2 separate regions of the Homo sapiens genome follow, and region 1 is linked to region 2. A link means that fine-mapping ties the variant in region 2 to the expression of a gene that starts in the linked region. Tissue or cell type: testis. Region 2 holds a variant in brackets; the other region holds the start of a gene. All regions are shown on one strand. Distances are from middle to middle.

Region 1 (5,385 bases), 20 kb before region 2:
GTTTCCTTCTAGTCTTCTGTCTGGGTAGCCAGTTAAAATTTTTAAACTTTTCGTGTGATAATATCATTACCTTTCACTTGTGCACATAGCTGATATCTGTGTTCTCTACACCAATGACTTTTCCAAATAAACTTATTCTTCTCTTACATATATGATTGGCTCTTTAGCCAACGCCAGCACATAAGCTCTAGCTCTGGATTAATGGAACTAACTTTTTTCTTTTTCTTTTCTTTCTTTCTTTCTTTTTTAAGATTTCAACTTTTTACTTCCTCTTTTGCTGTAAACAGAGAGCAAATACGAACTCAAAAAGGCACAAATTGTTTGTACCAGAAACAGAAATGAAAGATTCTTTAAAAAGATTTGTATTTCTACAAGATAATGTGAATTTTTATAGGCTAAAGTATAGCACGAAATAATTTAAAAACAGGCAGAGCTACAGAGATCTGATAATTTTGTGATTTCCAAATTTGTTTAAGCTATGACACTCCTTTTTTCCCCCGAAGAAATTTCATATTGAAGCTCAATATATAAAAAAGATTGGCTTGGACAGTGGTCCCTGAGTCCCTCTTGAAAACTGGTTGGGTTTAGTATTATTTGAAAGCCCCTTTGTATGAGAAAACTCCTGGTGATTGGTTAAGTGTTTTTTGTTGTTGTTTTTGTTTTTTTTCCTGACACATCATGTATGAAACAACATTTATAAATGTTTGTGAATGATTAGGAACTACACAGAACTAGGATGACTATATCATTTTTATCCGTTTGAGAATCATAGGTGATACTACTCAATATGAAGCCACAAATAGACGTGAGCCAGGACTGTCCTGGGTAAACCTGGATATGTGGTCATCATATATTCACATAGACTCCATGTTTGCTCACCACAGGCTTGACAGTGACAGTAAACTAGTTTGACTAGCAGACTACTCTGTCTCTTTTGAGTCAGGTCTACAGTGGTGCAGGTATTACAAAGATTGTTTTATGACCTTGTGCAGAGTTGGGAAACAGCTTCCATGTCACACATGAGTTCTGATCGGTCCAGGACTTGCAGGTGTAATGTGATAGAAACATTCTGACTCTTGCAGTCAAGGATCCGAGAAAGTGTGATTGATTACCAGTGTTTGCTATGGGTACACGGGAAGGGAGAAGTGACATATGTTGTACATTAGCCAACCCTTGGCAAGACATGTTAACCTCTGTAGGCTTCAGGTTTCTCTTTGTAAAATGAAGAGGTTGGACTGGATGCCTTTATGGTGCCTCAGCTCTGCCCTCTCCCTTCTGTGACTTGGTGCCTGTAATGGAGACCGATGCTCTTCACATGGTTTGTGTTATAGCATTTCTTACAAATGTGCCTATGAAGGGTGTATTTGCAGATGAGCTCTAATAAGGCTTTCCAGGTAACAAAGTCAAACAGCTTCAAGTTCCAGAGAAGGATTTTAACCCATGTCAATGACTTAGGACTAATTCCTATTCTCCACCCTACTTCAATTCATAGATAATCTAAGATTACCCATTTTATTTATTCTGTATTTTTATTTTTTTGGGACAGAGTCTCGCTCTGTTTCCCAGGCTGGAGTATAGTGGTGCAATCTTGGCTCATTGCAACCCCCGCCGACCCCCTCCTGGGGTTCAAGTGATTCTTGAGCCTCAGACTCCCGGGTAGCTGGGATTACAGGCTTGCACCACTACGCCCAGCTAATTTTTGTATTTTTAGTAGAGATGAGGTTTCACCATGTCGGCCAGGCTGGTCTCAAACTCCTGGCCTCATGTGATCTGCCTGCCTCAGCCTCCCAAAGTGCTGGGATTACAGGGGTAAGCCACCACACCTGGCCTAAGATTGCCCTCTTTATAGATTACTCCTTTTTAACCTTTTAACCAATATATTATTTGGCTTTGGCTGCTTTCAGAGGTCGGGAATGCAGGTATTTGCCCTTATCAGTGTTTATGTTTGTAAATATGTTGGTAGCCTAAGAGGTTGAAATTAATGATTCATGAATCCAGCTTGTAATTATGATATTCATAATTTTTAAGGATCTTTTCACTTGCCTCCTCTTTTGAAAACTTAAAATTTATATTCTATAAAGTGAGCTAAGCAAATAAATATATAGTCCACTTTGGGCTGTTTCAGGGATTACTAAGTCGATAATTGTTTGCATTTCTTGGTTTTTGTTTGCTTAGAGTCCCCTTGCTCCCATCCTGGGGAGTCTTAAGCATCCAAGCATAGCTTTCTAGGATATCTTTTATACCAGAAGACCATTTTCCCCTAAGAAAGCTTTCAGAGCTTTTAGTAAAATTAGGGAGACTTGTGGAAACATCTGTTTGAGCCTAGACATGGAAATTAATTACAATTCTAACCTGTCTCTAAAAGTTTTGCTTTTTTTATTTAAAAAATTTTGTTTTGCTTTAGTTTGTTTTAAAAATAACACTAGATTGGGAATCAGAAGACGTGGATTCTACTCATGGTTCTTCTAACTGTTGTATGGTTTGGGGTAAGTCCTGGCCTTCGTTTCTTTGTCTGTCAAAATGGGAACAGGTAGAAAATTCTCTAAATTCTTCCAAGCTCTAACATTCTAAGATAGCTCCTCACATATTTCAATGTCAGTCTTTTCTCATCTTGTGGAATCTCAGTTCAAAAAGTATCTGCCTTTTATGAACTTCTGATTTTCTCCCAAGTGTGTTTGTGGCAGCTTTAAAGTTTCCCAGGTTTGGTAAACACATCCTGAGTTTTGTCTAAGGGTGAGGAGTCCTTTCTCCAAGAAGTTTGTCTTCTGGCATCTCCAGGAGCCTGGCTGTGGGGACACAGAACCCCTGGGGCTGTTCTCAGTGTGGTTCTTTGAGAATCCTCTTGAACTTCTTACAGGATAAAGGGAGCAATCCTTACAAAGGCCATGCTTGTCTCTTGTGAGCTGGGGCCCACCTTAGCCTTCTTCAGAGGTGTTGCTTTAGCAAATACCTTGGGTCCTCCCAGGCAAAATCCTATTTTATTGAACCCAAATAACATGTGCATCTAACAAGTTTATTTCTGAAGGGTTGGCCCAGAGTTGGGTGCAGTTGACATGGTGACCACAGACTTTCTCAAGAAAGGAAGAAAATTCCTACATGTAATCACCAGCCTCTGTATGGTTAGTCTCTGTGGAGGAGACTTGTTTTGGTGTCTAAGACTGGCAAGATCAGGAAAAAGGAAAGTGAGCATAAGAGAAGTCTAAAGACAGAAAGCCAGGCAGACATTCAGGTCAGCCGGGACAAATCAACCAACCAATTATTGTGAAACAATGGCCTCCAAAAGTAGGTGTGGCCTACACCCCAAGGATGAACACAATACTTTATTGAGTTGGAGTTTGGGAAAGAGAATATTGGAATTCATATTTCTTTAAATCATTCTTTTAAACTTTTAATTTTTATGTAGTTTTAGTACATCTTATTTGCTAGTACTGTGTCATCTTTTTGGCTGTATTTTTCACTGGCTGCCACCTGGCCAAATCACCACTTGGGTTATAACAGCAGCCTCTGACTGGTCTCCTTCCGTCTGACCTTGGCCCCTGCACTCTACTCTCAACGTAGCTCTCAGAGTGATGGAACTCAGAACTTGTCACTCCTGCTCAAAAACTTCCAGTTTCACCCAGGTGAAAGCTAAGGTCATTAGAGTGACCTCTGCACTCAGCTCATCCACTCAACTGTCCAGCCTTGTCTGCTGTCCACCTCTTCCTGGCTCCTTGGCTCCAGCCCCACTGGCCTCCTCCTATTTAGTGAACACACCAGCTGCGCTCCTGCCTCGGGACCCTTGCTGTTCCTGCTCCCTGTGCAGCTCCTCCCTAGATATCTGCATGGCTCACCTTTACCTCTTTCGGGTCTTTCCTCAGATGTTACCTTCTCAGTGAGTCCCTTTCTGACCACACTATTTAAAATGCCCACTCCACATTTCCTGTCTGCCTTTCTTTATTTTCCTCCACAGTGTAAATCCCTCATACCATATATTTGACTCCCCCCATTTTAAAAACCAAAACTTACATGTGGCTAAGATATAGATAACAGGACAAAGATTATTTTGTTAGTTTGGTTCATTCACTGCTGTGTCTTTAGCACTTAAAACAGGGTAAGGTGCATAGTAAATGCTCAATAAATATTTGTTAAGTGATTGAATATAAATATGTATATGTATCTGTATATGTACATGTTCAAATGTTTTTTACTCATGAAGTACTCAAACAAAGAAAAGAGAAACACTTCTATAAACAGCTTTCATTTTACACTGGGATGTCAAATTTCCATTCAAACAAAATTAAGAGAAAGTTTTCTGCCCTATGAAAAGATAAAAGATCACATATTGTCCTATTTTCTGGTTATATTTTCCCTCTTTTTAAACTGTGCTTTTGGTTGTGAGGATGGTTAGCACTGTAGGTAATTCTCAGTCGTAGGTAATTCTCAGTTCCATTTCTTTTCAGGGGAAGTATCAAGGTGACATGAGGGGACAGGAAATATTGTCCCTAAATGTTCTAAGAGTGGATCTCCCATGTATTCAAGCAATCGAGGGGTGTTTAATGAGCTCCATCTACATAGCAATGATACAGCATAGCTCTGCTGGGGCTCTCTGCTCTCCCCTTCTCCACAAAAGGGAAGGACAGGTAAGAACAGGCACAATAAAATAGAAACCAGACAGAAAGAATTGGGAACAAGGAGACAAGACAAGAATCATGCTTTACGTGATTTAATCCTAATATTTTTATGAGAGGATGGCTATCATCATTTCATTTTAAAGATGAGGAAAATGAAGCCGGGTGCGGTGGCTCATGCCTGTAATCCCAGCACTTTGGAAGGCCGAGGAAGATGGCTCACCTGAGGTCAGGAGTTCGAGACCAGCCTGGCCAGAGAGATGGCCAGAGATGGCTAGAGATGGTGAAACCCCATTTCTACTAAAAATACAAAAATTAGTCAGGTGTGGTGGCAAGCACTTGTAATCCCAGCTACTTGGGAGGCTGAGGCAGGAGAATTGCTTGAACCTGGGAGGACGAGGTTGCAGTGAGCCGAGATTGTGCCATTGCACTCCAGCCTGGGCGACAAGAGTGAAACTCTGTCTCAAAAAAAAAAAAAAAAAAAAAAGGAAAATGAAAACTGAGAGGTCGAGTAATTTTTTTCAGGGTCGCATGACTCTGGGAGTCACATCTGGGCAAGCTCAACTCCAAGGTGCACATTCTTAGCCATCACACATTAGGATTCTTGAAATAGGTGCAGTATCACAAGAGGCCTTTTTCCCCATGGAGCTCACAGTCTAGTTAGATGATACTGAATGCCTTGCACATGAAAGGCCCTCTTTAAAGTTTATTGAGTTCATGTGGCATATGAAACAGTTATCAATCCACATATAGTGCAGGTTTAGACTATGCTTAGGGG
Region 2 (5,385 bases):
GGAATGGTTGAATTACTGCCACTGGGCACTTAGCAATCAAACTGGAAGGCCTGATTCTGATTTTGTCAGAGGGTTCCCAGAGGTGACCATATAGTGAAATCTGTTCTTTTTTTTCAGAATCTGACCCTATATCATTTTATTGATCTCTTTAAGCTTTGTACAGGTTCTTTGTCAACCATAATGAGGTTTTATGTTTTCTTTCCTTTTTGTTTTTCTGCAATCTGTCCAACCAAGGTTTATTTTGCAGGAATTTGTGACTGGGGGCATGCCTGAGATGAGCAAACGGTGCAAATCTTTAAGGCTGTGACACTTGGCTGTTAATAGCTTAAGAAGCTCTTGGTTGTAGGAGTAAGTCATAAAGCCACAAAAGGATTTAGCTTCTTGAGAAAGCAGAAATCTACTTAGCATTTTTATGAGAAAATGGAGTGACTCCTCCATTAGAGTCAAGCATTAAGGCTTCAGCGTCAACTAGAATATTTCCCATAGTTTGGCAAGTTGCCTTTTAACCCATGGCTTCCCACACCTGGAACCTGTTTCCTCTAGTTGCTCCATCGCAGGCAGGCTACTGTGTTTTGATCAGAACCCAGAAGAAAAGAACCTGGGATCTGGGTATCACAGGTAGCATTTTATAGCATCAGACATGTTCCAGTGACTAACTCTTGGCTGCCCCATCCCCAGACACTTTCCTGCAGTGGGTTGGGGCTGGGGAGGTTGTGGAGCTCACTGATGCACATTTTGCAGTTTGGCTCAATGGGTCCACAGGCCTTACATAACCTAAACTCCCTGACTTTTCATCACTTCCTGCAGAATGTGATGTGGGTGGGCTGAGGGATTCAAGTAGAGACTAGTGGGTGATACTTAAACTTGCTCAAAGGGAACATCTTTTAGGGAGCCTTCTAGAGTGCCACAAAATTGGGCTATGACTGTTTCTGCCATCTGAGAGAGGGCTATCACTCTTTCTATTATCTTAACAAGCAGAAGATATATTTCTATTGTAAGTAGTGAAGCTCTTCGTATCTTAACATTGAATAATGTAAAAAAAAATTTAATTTTTTTTTTTTTGAGATGGAGTCTTGCTCTGTTGCCCAGGCTGGGGTACAGTGGTGTAATCTCGGCCCACTGTAACCTCTGCCTCCCGGGTTAAGGCAATTCTTGTGCCTCAGCCTCCCCAGTAGCTAGGATTACAGGTGCACACCACCACACCTGGCTAATTTTTGTATTTTTAGTAGAGACGGGGTTTCACCATGTTGGCCAGGCTGGTCTCGAACTCCTGGCCTCAAGTGATCCACCCACCTAGGCCTTCCAGAGTTTTGGGATTATAGGCATGAGCCACCACGCCTGGCTCTAATAATGTAAAAATTTTAATGAGTCATATTTCTAGAATTTTGTTTAAACACACAAATTATGTGTGTGTGTGTGTGTGTGTGTGTGTGTGTGTGTGTGTTTGACTCTCTGTTGCCGTGAGTTCTTGTTTGACCATGTGGTGGTATGTGCTAGGGTTTGGAGAAATTAATGGGAAAAAGAGTATATGTCACATTTAAGTAGTTTTTTTCCTTCTAAGAATTGGGAAAAGGCCTCCATTGTTTGATTTTCATGGTGAGGCAACTTGGACCTGGTCATAGAACATGAATGTCCTGAGGGATGATAGGGAATGCAGCGAATACCCAGAGAAATCCTGTTAGCCTGCCAGAGGCGGGAGTGACCCTCATTTCTTCATCTCCTTGTGCAGTTCTTCAATGTTCTTTGCAAGTGGATTTCACTAAAGTGAGTTCTGTCTATTAATGTCAATAGGTATAGATGTCTTTCCATCTTATCCATAACGTGGAGAAGATGCAATATGCCTCATAAATATTTCCAGGAACAATGTTCCTTTTATTTCAGTAAATTAGAGGTCAGCACCCTATTCATAGATAGATCCAGCAAACGGGGAGAGGAGACAGTAGTTAACAGTGTTCATTCTTCTACACAATCTCTCTGTATCTGGTACCTCGTGCCTAGTTAAGTAACTGAATACTGATATCACTGAGCTATTCTTTAAAATAATGCAGTGTTAGAAAGCCTTCCATACCAAAATTCAAACCCCTCCTTTATCAGACATTGC[G/A]CTAGACTACTCAAGCCTAACATAGAATAGTTCCCAAGCTTTACTCCCTGCCCCCATTTATTGCTTCTTTATGCTACAAACATGATTGCAAGAGGGAAAATGTAATTTTTAAAATTCACTTTGGTAAAAGGGATTCCAATGATTTCATTACCACCTTAAACTTTTGTGAAAAAAAAACAACTCATCACTTTAAATTATTGAAGTGTATATTTAACCATTATTGTCATCCAGGTACACTTTCAACAGTTTTGTTTCTATTAAGGCTGTAATTATTTTATAAGGAAACATTAAATATTTACCATAATTAAAGAGACATGCTGGCATTTGTTTCACTATTTTTTACTTGAATTGCTTTATATAGAAACTTATGGAATTGCTTTATATGGAAATTGCTTTATATGGAGATTCATACTGAGATTTCAGTAGAGCAGGTATTAAAAGATGTATCCAGGGGCTCTGCCGAGAGACTGGCATGAAGGTTAATAGAACTCAATAAATATTTATTGGTTGAAAAATGAATTACATTCCATTTTGTTTGTCCCTAGGGGATTTTATCATAATGGGCTTTAAAAAATTTAATAGGTTTTGCTATAATAAAATATAACCAGTACAGTATGGTGTCACTTGTCTTGTGCTGGACAAGGGTAACCAAACTCAGAGACATCAACTTCTCTCTCCAGCCTCCACATCCTGGTGAGAGAAACTAACCTATCCTGTGGGTCAGTGAGAATCTAAGTGAGGCTTAGAAGCTTATACAAACATACATATCTATAAAAGCATTCCTATGATGTTCTCTTCTCTTAAAAACTCTTCCAGAGACTCTTCTAAAGGAATTTAAAATACAAGTTTCTGAACAGATATAGAATACCATTAGTTCACTGGCCAAGTAATAATCCACAGGCTGGTATATTTTAAATTCATAACAGTGTACTCTGTGCCTACTAAGGTAGAGAGGACACCTCCCGGATTCAAATGATCCTCCTGCCTCAGCCTCCTGAGTACCCGGGATTACAGGCACATGTCATTATGCTGGCCAATTTTTGTATTTTTAGTAGAGATGGGGTTTCGCCATGTTGGCCAGGCTGGTCCCGAACTCCTGGCCTCAGGTGATCTGCTCGTCTTGGCCTCCCAAAGTTCTGGGATTACAAGTGTGAGCCACCACACCCGGCCTGGAGGGATTAAAGTTTTTAGTATAAAGAACACTGTAGTATGGAAAGACCCTGTCTCAAAAAAATAAAATAAAATCCCCAACTTCAAGCATCTTCTCTGTTTCACCTCTCAACATCCCAGGGTGGCCCTCAGATCTGCCATAGACTCCTAAGTCCTCATCACACCACATCAAAACCATTCCAACAGCCCCAACTGGAGCTCTCTAAAGTACCTTATATCCAAATGCCAGGCTCATCTTCAAACACTTAAACACACACCGCCTCTCAGACCAGCCTGTTACTATAAACTTCTCAGTCTGGCATTCAAGACATACATACGCCACCAAGCCTTTTAATCTTTCTCCAAAGACTCCAAGAAAAAAAAAAAGAAAACATAATGGCAAAACACAGTAGACACTGTAGTTACTATATATATATATTTTTTTGAGACAGAGTCTTGCTGTGTCACCCAGGCTGGAGTGTAGTGGCATGATCTCCGCTCACTGCAGGCTCTGCCTCCCAGGTTCACGCCATTCTCTTGCCTCAGCCTCCCGAGTAGCTGGGACTACAGGTGCCCACCACCATGCCTGGTTAATTTTCTGTATTTTTAGTAGAGACGGGGTTTCACCTTGTTAGCCAGGATGGTCTCTATCTCCTGACCTCGTGATCTGCCCGCCTCGGCCTCCCAAAGTGCTGGGATTACAGGTGTGAGCCACCACGGCTGTCCTGCAGTTACCATATTTATACCAGAATCATCTTACGTGGCTTCAGACAGAACACTAATTTTACATTAACACCTACCAACCAGCCTCACAATATAAAAAGTTCACTGTGGATTTAAACAAGATTTAAACTTCTCTTCCACTGCTGGGAAGAAAATGAGGGAAAGTTATAAGCAAGAAAGGAGCAGTTTTAAATTTCTGGGAGGATTTTAGGGTAATATATAGATTTTTAATTCCAAGGAAAAAATTTGCCTGTATTCCTTTAATAGAGGAAATGCAGTAAACGTCACCTTATTACATTATCTGCCAAAATACAGTTGGCAAGTTAGCAACATCATTTCCTCATTTTCCAAACACATCTGCTGATAGATTCATCAAAAGAGGTACTTTACTCCCTGTTGCTGATTTTGTAAATTACCAGGCCCAAAAAGGAGATATGATGTAAATTACTCAGGGACTTATGCCTTATACAAGGACTGACGATGTTTTTTCAGTTTAAGCTAAGTTACTCCCATTTTGCCAAGAAGAAAATGGACAGAGAGTTGGACAACTACCTACCAAAAAGGTCTGGGATGTTGTTTCTTTGCCAGATTGAGAGGTTAGGGAAACTAAAGCTTGTTGGTGATGGGGGGTGGGGGATGGAGGATCAGGAGGTGGGGAGCAGGATGCCTTAATGGAATTTACAATATTGAAATATCTATTTTTTCTAGAGAAAATAAAGCATCAGGCCTCCTATCAACAGGCATGTAACATGTTCATTTGGTATAAGATCATCTCCCAAAGTCCCTCCAAAGATGGACAGGCATTTATACCTACTGACATTAATAGACAGAACTCACTTTAGTGAAATCCATTTGCAAAGAACATTGAAGAACTGCACAAGGAGAATGAACAAATGAAGGTCAGTCAGGACTCTGGCAGGTTAACAGAGCAAGACATATCTCAAAAAAAAAAAGCAGAGCTTAAGATTTTAATATAAAGAACATTCTAGTGAAAGACTGTTTATTTTAAAAATTATTTTTATTTTATTTTCTTTTTTGGGCCCCACTGACCAGACTCCAGAAAGACTGTTTTTTAAGTAAAGACAAACAACATCTTAGTTGGAGAGGTTTAGCTAGACAGTAGTGAGATGGACTACTGGGAGAAAAAGACTAAATATGTTGGGAATTGAGTGGTAACATGTGACTTTAATTGGTGAAAGAGGTCTGTTCATTAGTAATTGACCACTGTGGGTAGCTGGTTTATCAAGGGGTAATAATACTCTTTGATGGGCTTTTACATTTTCAGCAATCAAGTTCAGTAGTACAATCCCTAGTCCGCCAAAATCTCATCCGCGAGGCTTATCAAGACCGTGGCTATTGTACAGCGGTTGCTCAAGCATCCCACACTTGGCTCCTCCATCTCCACATAATTT

Alleles and levels. Positions count from the first base shown, and alleles are read on the strand shown. Sizes are in standard deviations (SD) of each study's normalised expression.
As copies of A replace G in region 2, the expression in testis of the gene that starts at base 3,334 in region 1 goes up (moderate effect, 0.51 SD a copy in GTEx).

What was found. PIP is the estimated chance that this variant, and not a neighbour inherited with it, causes the effect.
Region 1: it holds the start of ANKRD44-IT1, and the variant in region 2 is the best candidate, but not a certain one, in a credible set for the expression of ANKRD44-IT1 in testis (GTEx, PIP 0.65).

The regions. Positions count from the first base shown.
Region 1 is chr2:197,300,468-197,305,852 of GRCh38, reverse strand. ANKRD44-IT1 (ANKRD44 intronic transcript 1) reads left to right here and starts at 3,334. Exons shown (of 6, transcript NR_046837.1): 1 at 3,334-3,620; 2 at 4,440-4,890. All of the region lies in intron 1 of ANKRD44 (ankyrin repeat domain 44), which reads left to right. RefSeq lists enhancers at 929-1,058, 3,637-3,926.
Region 2 is chr2:197,280,563-197,285,947 of GRCh38, reverse strand. All of the region lies in intron 1 of ANKRD44 (ankyrin repeat domain 44), which reads left to right. All of the region lies in intron 5 of ANKRD44-IT1 (ANKRD44 intronic transcript 1), which reads left to right. Among named protein-coding and RNA genes, the nearest start is that of ANKRD44-IT1, 19 kb to the left of the region's middle. The variant G/A (reference allele first, on the strand shown) is at 2,102.